Linked DNA regions of Homo sapiens: region 2 is linked to region 1. The links come from fine-mapping of genetic effects on gene expression. A gene starts in region 1. The other region holds a variant in brackets. All regions are shown on one strand. Distances are between the middles of the regions. Region 1 holds the start of YBX3 (Y-box binding protein 3). Region 2 overlaps YBX3 (Y-box binding protein 3).

Region 1 (5,386 bases):
CTTTCGAAGACTCTGGGAGCAGTCCTAGCATTTTAGTATTCATAACTTTATTTTATCTCAAAAAGGGCTCTCTAAATTGTATTAGTTTTAAGCATCACAAAACCTGAATCCAGCCCTGAATTGCTGAGAACTTCCGAAAGATCTTGTGGCTCCAGTGGCTTCAGGAGAACTCCTGAGAACCACTGTCTTGGGGACTGGAGGCTGAGATCTTCAGTGGAGCTTCTCTGAGTTTCCCTCCTTCAGCCCTTCCAACAGTTGTGAGAGCTTTAACTTCCTCCATACTAGGAACAGAGTGGCATTTGTTTTTATGATCAAACCAATAATTGCTTAAAAATGACTGCTGTCAGCAATTAGATTATAATTCTTTGTTGACTTACTCTTAAACTTAGTAAATGATGATATTGTCTTACAATAGAAATGTTGATAGTGAAAAATAATTTTAACATCATATCAAAAGACCTTACAACCGGCTCCATTTTGGTCAACATTGGATACTCACAATGGTGTACTTTGTCCGGGACATAGCATTTGCTTAGCAAATATGAGTGTATGAATTAGTGAATGAAGGAATGGATAAATTTATGTGTATCTGTATCCAAGTTGCTTCCTACTTATGATTATTAAAACATAGATCATATTTGTTCTAATTTTCTTTAGATTTATTTAGTACAATACCAACAACTTCCAGCTGCTCACTGCTTTGTTTGGATGACAATGATGAGTAGTTTTGGAAGCCAGTCCAGCACAAATTCTAGGAAATCCCAGGGTGCATCTGTAATTATTTTAGGGTCTTCCAGAGGTTGGAGATCACACCTGTTAGTTATGAATTACTTCCAAGGATGAATTTTTTTAAAAGGCTTTACTGTTGGATCGGTTTGAAGAGTTCAATCTCCTTACTTTTTTTTCTTGTAATGTAATTCTGAAAGGTAAATAGCAATGATAATCATTTTGCTGAATAAGAAAGTCAATGGTCAGTCCTCACCAGAATAAATCATGTTTATAATTTAATTGTAATTAAGACCATAATCTTTCACATGAAGAAATAATTTAATCATTCTTAGAATTAGACCAGCATTTTAAAAGCATCTACATTTATATAACATCACTGTATGCTCCATACTGAAGTCAAACTAAAATATGAATCTAACATTTAAGAGTTTGTAATTTTTTAAATATTGATGAATTACATAGAAAAGCTCAAAATTACATAATTTGCTATTTTTTCAAATAACTTATTTTCTTTGTGTTTTTTGTGGATGAAATAAGAAAGTAAGAATTCAGGAAAGTTTCATAATAATTGATAGCAAATGTGCAGATAAGTAATTGAGTTTGGAAGAATTTGGTCTGTTTTCATTTTGTAAACATTCACTATGTCCAAACTCTGTGCTACGTACTGTACTAACCAGTGGAGATACAAAGATGAATTACACTTGATAGTTACCCTACTGATGTTAAGGTAGACATCGACATTACAGACATATTCCTGGAAAAAAATTTGGTAAATTGTTTGAGGGAACAGGCAATAACTTAAAAAACAAACAAAACAAAGGAGCTTTAGGTGGACCGGACACTGGAGTGACACATGATAATCTCATCTACTTTTCATGTCACCTTTGAGAACCTCTCATAAAGCAGGAAACCGACTCTGGGACATTGAATCTCTGTCCCAAGTTAACCTGGTTAATAAAAAACAAAGCCAGAATTTATACCTAGTCTGTCTGAACCCTAGGGGCCAAATAGTCCTGTATTCCAGACAGTCTTTGGGTACAGATCCCAGACCCTCTGGCCCTGTGTTTACTACCATCCAGCCCATTCTCAAAGGGCATGTGGGCTCTTCAACTTGGGAATAATGTTTATTGGGTGATCTGTTTCTCTATACCTCTCATCCTCGAGGCTAAGAGGGCTCAGTTCCTTAAGCTTTCACCAGCTGGCAGAGGCAACTGGAGCAGAAGGTAGGAAGTGGATTTATTCAGCTTTTTTTGTGTGTGTTCCTTATTAAATATATATTGACAGCTCCTTATTTGTTGCGGTTAAATTGGTGTAAACTCTGAATTTACATTAAATCTGTGAGGTCAATTTCCTCATCTGCGTGTTACAGATGAAATTATCCGTATATTACCTTTCAGGAGTAAGTTGCCAAATAGTCTTAAGGTTTTATTATTCCAGGTCTTAACAGCTGTGCTACGAATAGCTGCTGGTGCTTGATACATGTTGAATGACTGACTAGATGCAAAGGATTTAAAAACAAGTGTTTGAGAGGGTAAAGCGCAGAGTAGTTTGGGTGCCCTATTTTACCTCTCCTTGTCAGCTGCGGGTGTCAAGACGGGTTGAGGGAGGAGAGCCAATGCACCCCGCTCCAACAAAGGGTCAGCAGCGCGGGCTCCTCGGAACGCTCCAGAAGACAACCCGGGCGCCCCGTTCACCCTGGCTTTCCTTGGTTCTGCAACGCGACCCGCGCGCTCGCGTCCCGGCGGATTGGAGCCATAGAAAGCGCACCGGGCGCCTTTAAATGCTAATGAGAGTCCAGGGCCCGACTCCCGAGCCAAGTTTCCCCACCCTCTCCCCTCGCCCGCCCTTCCCTCCCGGGCCGGTGCGCCGCCTAGAAAAACTTGTGCGGGGCCATTTTTGGGGCAGTAAGATCGAGCGAGGAGCCCAAGAGAGAGCGCGCAGCACGAAGCTCGAGCCGCCTCCGCCGCGCGACCCCACCTCGGCCGCCGCCGCCTGCGCCGCGAGATCCGCCCCGGCCTCCCCGAGAGCGAGCCCCGGCCGCCGCGACCACCAGCCGCGCTAACCGCCGACCAACCGCCACCGAGGCGCCTGAGCGAGAGCAGAGGAGGAGGAGGCATGAGTGAGGCGGGCGAGGCCACCACCACCACCACCACCACCCTCCCGCAGGCTCCGACGGAGGCGGCCGCCGCGGCTCCCCAGGACCCCGCGCCCAAGAGCCCGGTGGGCAGCGGTGCGCCCCAGGCCGCGGCCCCGGCGCCCGCCGCCCACGTCGCAGGAAACCCCGGTGGGGACGCGGCCCCCGCAGCCACGGGCACCGCGGCCGCCGCCTCTTTAGCCACCGCCGCCGGCAGCGAAGACGCGGAGAAAAAAGTTCTCGGTGAGTCAGGCCAGGGAGGGCAGGGGCTGCCGTAGTGGGGCGGGCCCAGCCGGCCGCGGAGCACGTGTGGGCAGCTCGCGCTACATCTCCCACCCGGGCTGGAGACGCTGACAGCACAGGGTCCCCAGGGATCTCCGGGTCCCCAGGGGTCTCCGGGTCCCCAGCGCTGGCCGCCTCCCTTGCCGGCGCTCCCAGGTGAGCGCGCTGCGCCCTGCGCTCCTGGCGGCCGTGTGCATCTCCCTTCTGGTTCCGGGCCAGAAAGTTTAGGTCTTAACTTCTGTCTCCCAGACGGGCACTGTTGCGGATTCGCGTGGTGGAAAATGCCTGCGTTTGGAGAAGAAAGGAGAGGCAGTCTGGGAGAGGGGACCTTGGGTAGGGATGGATGTAGGGGAAGGACCGACACGTGGGCCTGGCGCTTTGGGGTCCTTGCTTGGGATCTGGGAAAGGAGAGCATTTCCTTTGGGGAAGAGGAGGGCGCTAGAAGGAGACGGGGAGGGAAAGATAGAAAAGCTTCTTGCCAGGAAGGGTCAGGTGTCTGTCCCTGACGCCCTTCCCACATGGGCATGGGAAAGACGCCATGCTCCTGTTGGCCACATGCCAGCAAAGAGATGTTGCAATCGTCTCCGGGAAACTTGGGTCTTAGTCCCACGTCTTCCTCCCCCTCTCTGTGCCCACGGCTGCAAACAGCCATTCAGTGTCCACCAATGGCTACACGCTTCCCTCTTCCCGGACTGTGGGAACGCACGTGGTGTAGCAGCTGAAAAAACTTTGTCGGAAGTGGGGGTATGACGTTAGTTCAAAACATTGTTACCTTGGCACTTGTAACGTAGGAAGGGAAACAGGAAGATGAAATGTTGAGATTTGGGGGGGCAGTGGATGGAAAGGGTTTCTGTGATGGTTGTTGGTTTAGTCACATAACAAGCGTTCTTTTCGTAAGTAACGCCCCTGTGTGAGTTCTTAAACGCTTGCAAAGCAGGTGGGTGGTGAATAACCTCCCTAAAGGGTGTGTGTCCATATCGTTCGCTCTTATAAACAGGAACGTTAACAGATGGTGTAGGATGCTTCGGAGACCTCTTCACTATTTGGGGTGGGGCATGTTTGTCTCATCTCTCTGAGCCCTACTTCCCCTTTGGGAAGAAAGTTGAGGGAGCAATGTGAGAGAAGTGTATTCAATATTCCCCACCTTGAGAGGACTATTTTCTTGTTTTTTTTTTCTAGGGCTTTTACTAAGTCCCTACCAAACAACATGCTAATTGTAACCTGTGTAGGTTAAGAAACAAAATAGGCCTGATTTTGCTGGACTAAAAGTTGCTTAAATCTAGTCAGTAGTACATTGTGATGTTGTTTCTAGCAAATATTTCTTGGAACACTTTCTGCCAGATGTCTGAGAGAGAAAACCTTGTGTTCTCCAAAGCAGTGTTAGGATAACATTGTTAATGATACCTTATTTTGTAGAAAGCTTTTGCGGTTTTTCACTTAATCCTGTACTGTTCTGAGATTGGGAAAGCAGATACTATCTTTAAAGATGAAGGAAACAGATAAATGAAGGTTAATTTCCTCAAGCAACTGCCTCTGCAGATCCCTGGTGATGAGTCTGATGCCTTTTATCTTTCCACTCTTACTGCGTCTCTCTAAAAATGAAGGACAGCCCTTTCTACGTGACACCTCAACACTGTTTGTCTCTGTCTAGTGTGTCCTGCCATCCCCTTTCCTTTGCCAAGCAAACACATAGATGCCTAAGATGTACTAGGCACAATGCTGACTAAAATGGATATGTTCTAGTATTTGCAAATGGGCCTTCACTTGAGTTTATAAGCACATAGGCCAGGAAAAATAGTTTTCATGAGTGCAAAAAAATTTTCCTTCTGATAAATGTTATGGAAATCTATGGTCTTCCTCCCCAACCCTTCCCCTTAGTGTATATGAAGTGGGTTTATGGTTTAAAGCAAGACGTGGGAATGAATTTGATCATAAGAAGTCCTTGGAGAAGTATTTGCGGAATTACGAAACTTTTTTAAACTACATTGGAGAGTAAAAATAACCTTCAGCTTGGATTGAGGTTAGACCTGAGAATTATTTATCATCTTTTTCCTTTATTATTAGTATTGTCATTTTAATCAAGATTATTCCTTCAACAATGCTAGATATTAAAAACAGTTCCAGTCTTTATATTTTCCCAGGTAATTAATTTTTTGGGCAAATGAAAAGAGGCACTAAACGCATATTATTTGGAATATTGCCTGACTTAAATGCATATAATGTATCAAAAACAGGCCTCTA
Region 2 (5,386 bases), 21 kb after region 1:
ATGAAGGACAGTATTTGGCTCTTAGGGGGAGGAAGGGATGTTTTGAGAAAAGAAAAGAAAGTTGAGTTATGGCTGTATGGTCAAGAATTGCAGACATTGTTGGTGGGTTTTTTTGTTTTTTTAAGTTGTTCTTTCTTTCCCCTGGAAGTTGTACAATAAGTTAATTTTATTCCACTGGCTTAAAGTAAGTTTGTTGTAAAGAAAAATAAAAGAGTATTTTATTTAAAGAGATGAATGAAATGTATCCGATTTCAAAATGTTAAATTGATAGGCGAAAATAAAGTTAGGTGCTCTGGGACTAAGCAAATGAGTATTCTAGTCAGACTAGGTTTGTCTTCCTTTTCAGTCGTTCACGAAGATTTACTCATAAATAGTTTGTGTTGCAACTGAGAGTGCCTAATTTTGTAATGAAGCATTTTGTTTTTTACTTCTAAAAAAAATTCTGAACATAGCTGTATGCACTGTATCTTATCCCCTGTGCTGTGACACTCACTGTCAGCTCTCATTGCCTCTCCAGGCTGGTGAGATTGGAGAGATGAAGGATGGAGTCCCAGAGGGAGCACAACTTCAGGGACCGGTTCATCGAAATCCAACTTACCGCCCAAGGTACCGTAGGTATGTCGCATTTTCCACTAATGGCCAGTTAAAGGACTTGTGTGCACAATGGTAGAATGAGGACTGTGTGGTTCCGTTTTGTGGATTTATTATATATCTAGAAGATGTGAATGCTTTGACTACATGCCAGAGTTTTCAGGTGGTGGTGTGACATTTCCCACCTACTTAATACTAGAATTTTTAGTTATCTCTGCGCCAAAGCGTCATTTTGTATTCTGGAATTATAATAAGATGTAAATTAATACTTAATTTTTATCAAAATAAATCAGATAAATTATTGGTGGGCAATTCTGTGGTAATGCTGCAGATGGAGGAAGAATTGAGTGTCAGAGGATATTTGGGATAGTGACTGTTAATCACTGAGGCAGTCCAGTAGAGGGGTTAAATCAGGGTATGATCAAATCGCCTGAATTTATCTTCCTACTCTACAGTTCATTAGATGTATGTTCTTGGACTGCATTCCAGCCTGCGCAACAGAGTGAGACCCTGTCTGAAAACAAAGAGATATTCTATAGTTGGGGATTAAAGGTACTAATGCAGCTAAGATAATTAGTGTGGTACCTGATAAAGTAAAGGCCTCACTATGTATTAGATATTATTACCACCATTGAGGTTAATATTAGTGAACGCTGGGTTATTCTATTTGTGCTTTATTCCTTTGGAAGACTGAATTAGGCTAGACTCCTTCCATAAGATCCCTTTGAAGCATTTTATAATATAAGCCTGCCCATTCTTTTATCTTACCCTTTGTGGTAAGTGGAAAAGCTACAACTTCTTCCTGAATGATGTTTATGCTACCTTGAAATTTGTCAGTATGGCTTTATTGAAGGATAAAAAGTATATTATATTGGGAAAGGATTCCACCAATATAATTGTAAAAGGATCGTATCCTTTTTCTTCACAAGGTTCCCTCCAGCTTTAGGCATAATCACTAATGATTAAGTACTAGGGACTTTGAAAATAAAAGAGACGGCATAGAAATGTCTTACTGGAACAAAAAGGATTCAGTAGCGTGTGAGGCTCAGCTTTGTCAGTCCCTGGATATGTGATCTTGGAAAGTCATATTTGACCTTTTTTAACCTATAAAAGCAGCACTTTTATATAGCTCAGCCGTATACTTTATCATGTAAACCTCTTGGTTTTCTTGTTATAAATCTCATCCACAGAATTACCATTCAAATTAAATATTTAATTTTAAAACCGACTAGCACAGGCTCTGGCACATAATAATGTTTCTTCTCATGTTTAATTCCCTTAGTCTCTGCTAAATTCTGTTCATGGAAGGCAGATACCAGACTACTCTTCTTTTCTTTTTTAATTTTCCTATTCTTAGTGCTTATCAAAGGGCCTGATAGGAACAGAGTATGTGTTCAGTATATGTATGTTCCTTACAAATATGTATTCAAATGAAAGGGGAAAATGATGGAAAATTAAGATTTTTTTTTCGTGAAACCTCTATTCCATTTGTTGCATTGACCTGCGAATAATTCTAGCAATAAGTACTCATCACTTGACTTTTTTTTTTTTTTAATTTTGAGATGGAGTCTCCCTCTGTCACCCAGGCTGGAGTGTGCCAATCTCGGGTTGCTGCAACCTCTGCCTCATGGATTCAAGCAATTCTTATGCCTCAGCCTCCCAGGTAGCTGGGATTACAGGCATGTGCCACCACGCCCGGCTAATTTTTGTATTTTTAGTAGAGATGGAGTTTCACCATGTTGGCCAGGCTGGTCTCAAACTCCTGACCTCAAGTGATCCGCCTGCCTCAGCCTCCTGAAGTGCTGGGATTACAGGGGTGAGCCATCATGCCTGGCCCTGATCACTTGACTTTTTAATTTTTAAAAATAAATAAAACCTTATTTTCTGGAGAAGCCCTGTCCTGTTGGCAC[C/T]TGTTCTATTTTCTTCTGTGTTCCCTACAGCAGGGGACCTCCTCGCCCACGACCTGCCCCAGCAGTTGGAGAGGCTGAAGATAAAGAAAATCAGCAAGCCACCAGTGGTCCAAACCAGCCGTCTGTTCGCCGTGGATACCGGCGTCCCTACAATTACCGGCGTCGCCCGCGTCCTCCTAACGCTCCTTCACAAGATGGCAAAGAGGTAAATCCAACCAGTCAGGGCGGATGTTGCCAGATAGTCTTTAATCATGTCAGACTTTAGCATTCTAAAAGTGGTTTTATCACATGAAACCTGACACTTAACAAATATAAAAACATTTTGCTCAAGATCCATATATATAGGGTATGCCTTGTACATAACACAGACCACATATTTGAATCCAGTTAACATTCTCTGAAAGAATGACCCATATTAATGGGGATTCAGAGCTAAAACATTTGGGGTTCTTCAAAGAAGAGAGGCATTTATCAAGAGGAAGCTGCCTCTAAGCATGAGTTGAAAGCAGTTGTATATCAGACTTTATGGAGAGTAGTGGTATTTAGTTGCCGTTTTGTAAGCTGTTCTTATATGGTACTAATTTTGTTTTGTTTTGTTTTTTGTTTTTGTGAGGTTTTGGTTTCGTTTTGTTTTGGTAGAGATGCCAGGGACTGAATATGGTACTAATTTGTGACTCATACTTAAGAGTAGTTAAATTTTTGCATGCTAATTTTCCTTCACAGGAAAATTCAAACTTTTAAGAACTTTCAGTCTTGAACTTTCCACTGTCATCTGACTTTATCTGATTTATGGCTTTGTTTTGCATTTTAGGCCAAGGCAGGTGAAGCACCAACTGAGAACCCTGCTCCACCCACCCAGCAGAGCAGTGCTGAGTAACACCAGGCTCCTCAGGCACCTTCACCATCGGCAGGTAAGAGCTGGGGCAGCCCAGTCTTGAGTTGGTATTTTCTTTTTAGTATCACTGGTTTCTCAACAAGAGTACAAATTAGTCTAAACTAGTTCTGCAGTTCATCTGTGCCAACCCCTTGTCTCTATTGGGACTCTGTGGAAAAAGTGATTTGGTGGTTAAATATTTCTGGGATTGACCTCATTTTGATAAGCTTTGGTGAGGGTATAAGCATTCAGACAGAGTTGATGATACTCAACTTCTTTTTTCTAGACAGGCAGTTTTTTAACTACTAGTACCACTTAGGAAAACTGATGCTAAAAGTCCCTAACAAAGGCCTGGTTTTAGTAATCAGAAACAGTTTCAGAACCTGTTTAGTAATCAGAAACAGTAGAATAAACTAAAGGATTTTTTTTCCTTCCCTTTTTCTTTGATAATCAACTTTATTTATTTTGAGGCGGTGCAGCATAGTGTATAAGAGCCAAGGTTTATCTACCCATTGCAGGCTCTACTGTACCTCTCATTTGCTGGGTGATCTTGAGCAGTTTATCCTCTGTCTCAGTACTATCTGCTACTGGTAAAAATTAGGATACTAATTATATTTACTAGGGTCGTTGCAAGGATTATTAAGTGAAATAACAGGGAGTGTTTACAATAGGGTATGGTAAAGAATAACCTCTCGTAAAAGGATAGCTTGTTATTTTCTTGTCATTTTCTACTTTTTTCTGTCTTTTAAAGGTCTTGGACATTTTATTTACATAGAATTATAGCCAGAAAGATCAACTCAATTATAAATTCTGGGTTTGTTTTTTTTTAACCTATAACCCTTTTAACTGAGACTTTAGTTCTTATACTTCTTGGTTATCACCCTTTCCATTAGCTTTTAGTTAAGAGAGAGGTTGTAAACTCAGTGTCAATGCTATTTTTCAAAAATTGTTAAAATTTCATCAATGAAGTTTTGGGATTATTATAAGTTCTTGTGTCTTAAGGCCATCTGCTTTTATATCCAGTGATGTGGGATTTTAATCAGCCATTAATTAGGTAAGCATTCACTTTGAGGACAATATTCTGTTTTATCTTGGGTAGCATGGACAGTTTGTCACAGAAATAAGTTCCCTATTCAAACTTGGAATTAGCTGATTCAGAGTAACATATTAATAATATAAAAATGGCCATACCCTTTTATGGCGTAACATTATTTCTAGGTATTGTTTCTAAGGAAATAATTTTAAATATTGGGAAAAAATATTTTTACAATTTACAGTCTGTCTGACATTTGGTAAATAGCTAATTGTGATATATTCATATTAGGAGATAGGGTGCAGCCACTAAAATGATTTTGAGTATTGTTCATTAGTAATGGTAATTTTCTTTTATACAATTTTATAAAATTTTTGCTCTTATGTACTGACTTTTCTGGTTTATAAAAATACTTTATTAAAAAGTGAGAGTTTCCATTTAATTAACATATAGCTTACAGATCTATACAAGATGTGATTGTATTTAGAGCATTTGAAGTACTCTTTTTCTAATTATATGAAAAGCATATAATTTCTGCCTTTTTATTCTTTAACTCATGGTTACTTTGTCACTCTTTATAAGTTTGATTTTAATTTTTCCCAGGTGACCTAAAGAATTAATGACCATTCAGAAATAAAGCAAAAAGCAGGCCACAACCTTAACCAACACCAAAGAAACATCCAAGCAATAAAGTGGAAGACTAACCAAGATTTGGACATTGGAATGTTTACTGTTATTCTTTAAGAAACAACTACAAAAAGAAAATGTCAACAAATTTTTCCAGCAAGCTGAGAACCTGGGAATTCCTGCACGGAAGACAAGAGAGTAGCCTCTCCAGTTTCAGCAACCGCTAGGTTTCTATTTTTTTTCCTGGTTTTTACTGTTTTGGTAATATATATATTGAAACAAGAAATATTAATACCACATGGGGAGAACCCCAACCAAAGAAATCTGAAATATATAGTAAATGCTTTTTTT

What was found. PIP is the estimated chance that this variant, and not a neighbour inherited with it, causes the effect. A credible set is the group of variants that fine-mapping cannot tell apart.
Region 2: its variant is the best candidate, but not a certain one, in a credible set for the expression of YBX3 in whole blood (TOPMed, PIP 0.55).

The regions. Positions count from the first base shown.
Region 1 is chr12:10,720,570-10,725,955 of GRCh38, reverse strand. YBX3 (Y-box binding protein 3) reads left to right here and starts at 2,633. Exons shown (of 10, transcript NM_003651.5): 1 at 2,633-3,106. The coding sequence starts at 2,845. LOC124902876 reads right to left here and starts at 2,904. Exons shown (of 2, transcript XM_047429946.1): 1 at 2,296-2,904; 2 at 638-919. The coding sequence starts at 2,846. The coding sequence ends at 850. RefSeq lists silencers at 2,518-2,737, 2,758-2,857, 2,988-3,387.
Region 2 is chr12:10,699,280-10,704,665 of GRCh38, reverse strand. It overlaps YBX3 (Y-box binding protein 3), which reads left to right. Exons shown (of 10, transcript NM_003651.5): 7 at 518-615; 8 at 2,532-2,706; 9 at 3,313-3,412; 10 at 5,012-5,386. The coding sequence ends at 3,378. Among named protein-coding and RNA genes, the nearest start is that of YBX3, 21 kb to the left of the region's middle. The variant C/T (reference allele first, on the strand shown) is at 2,502.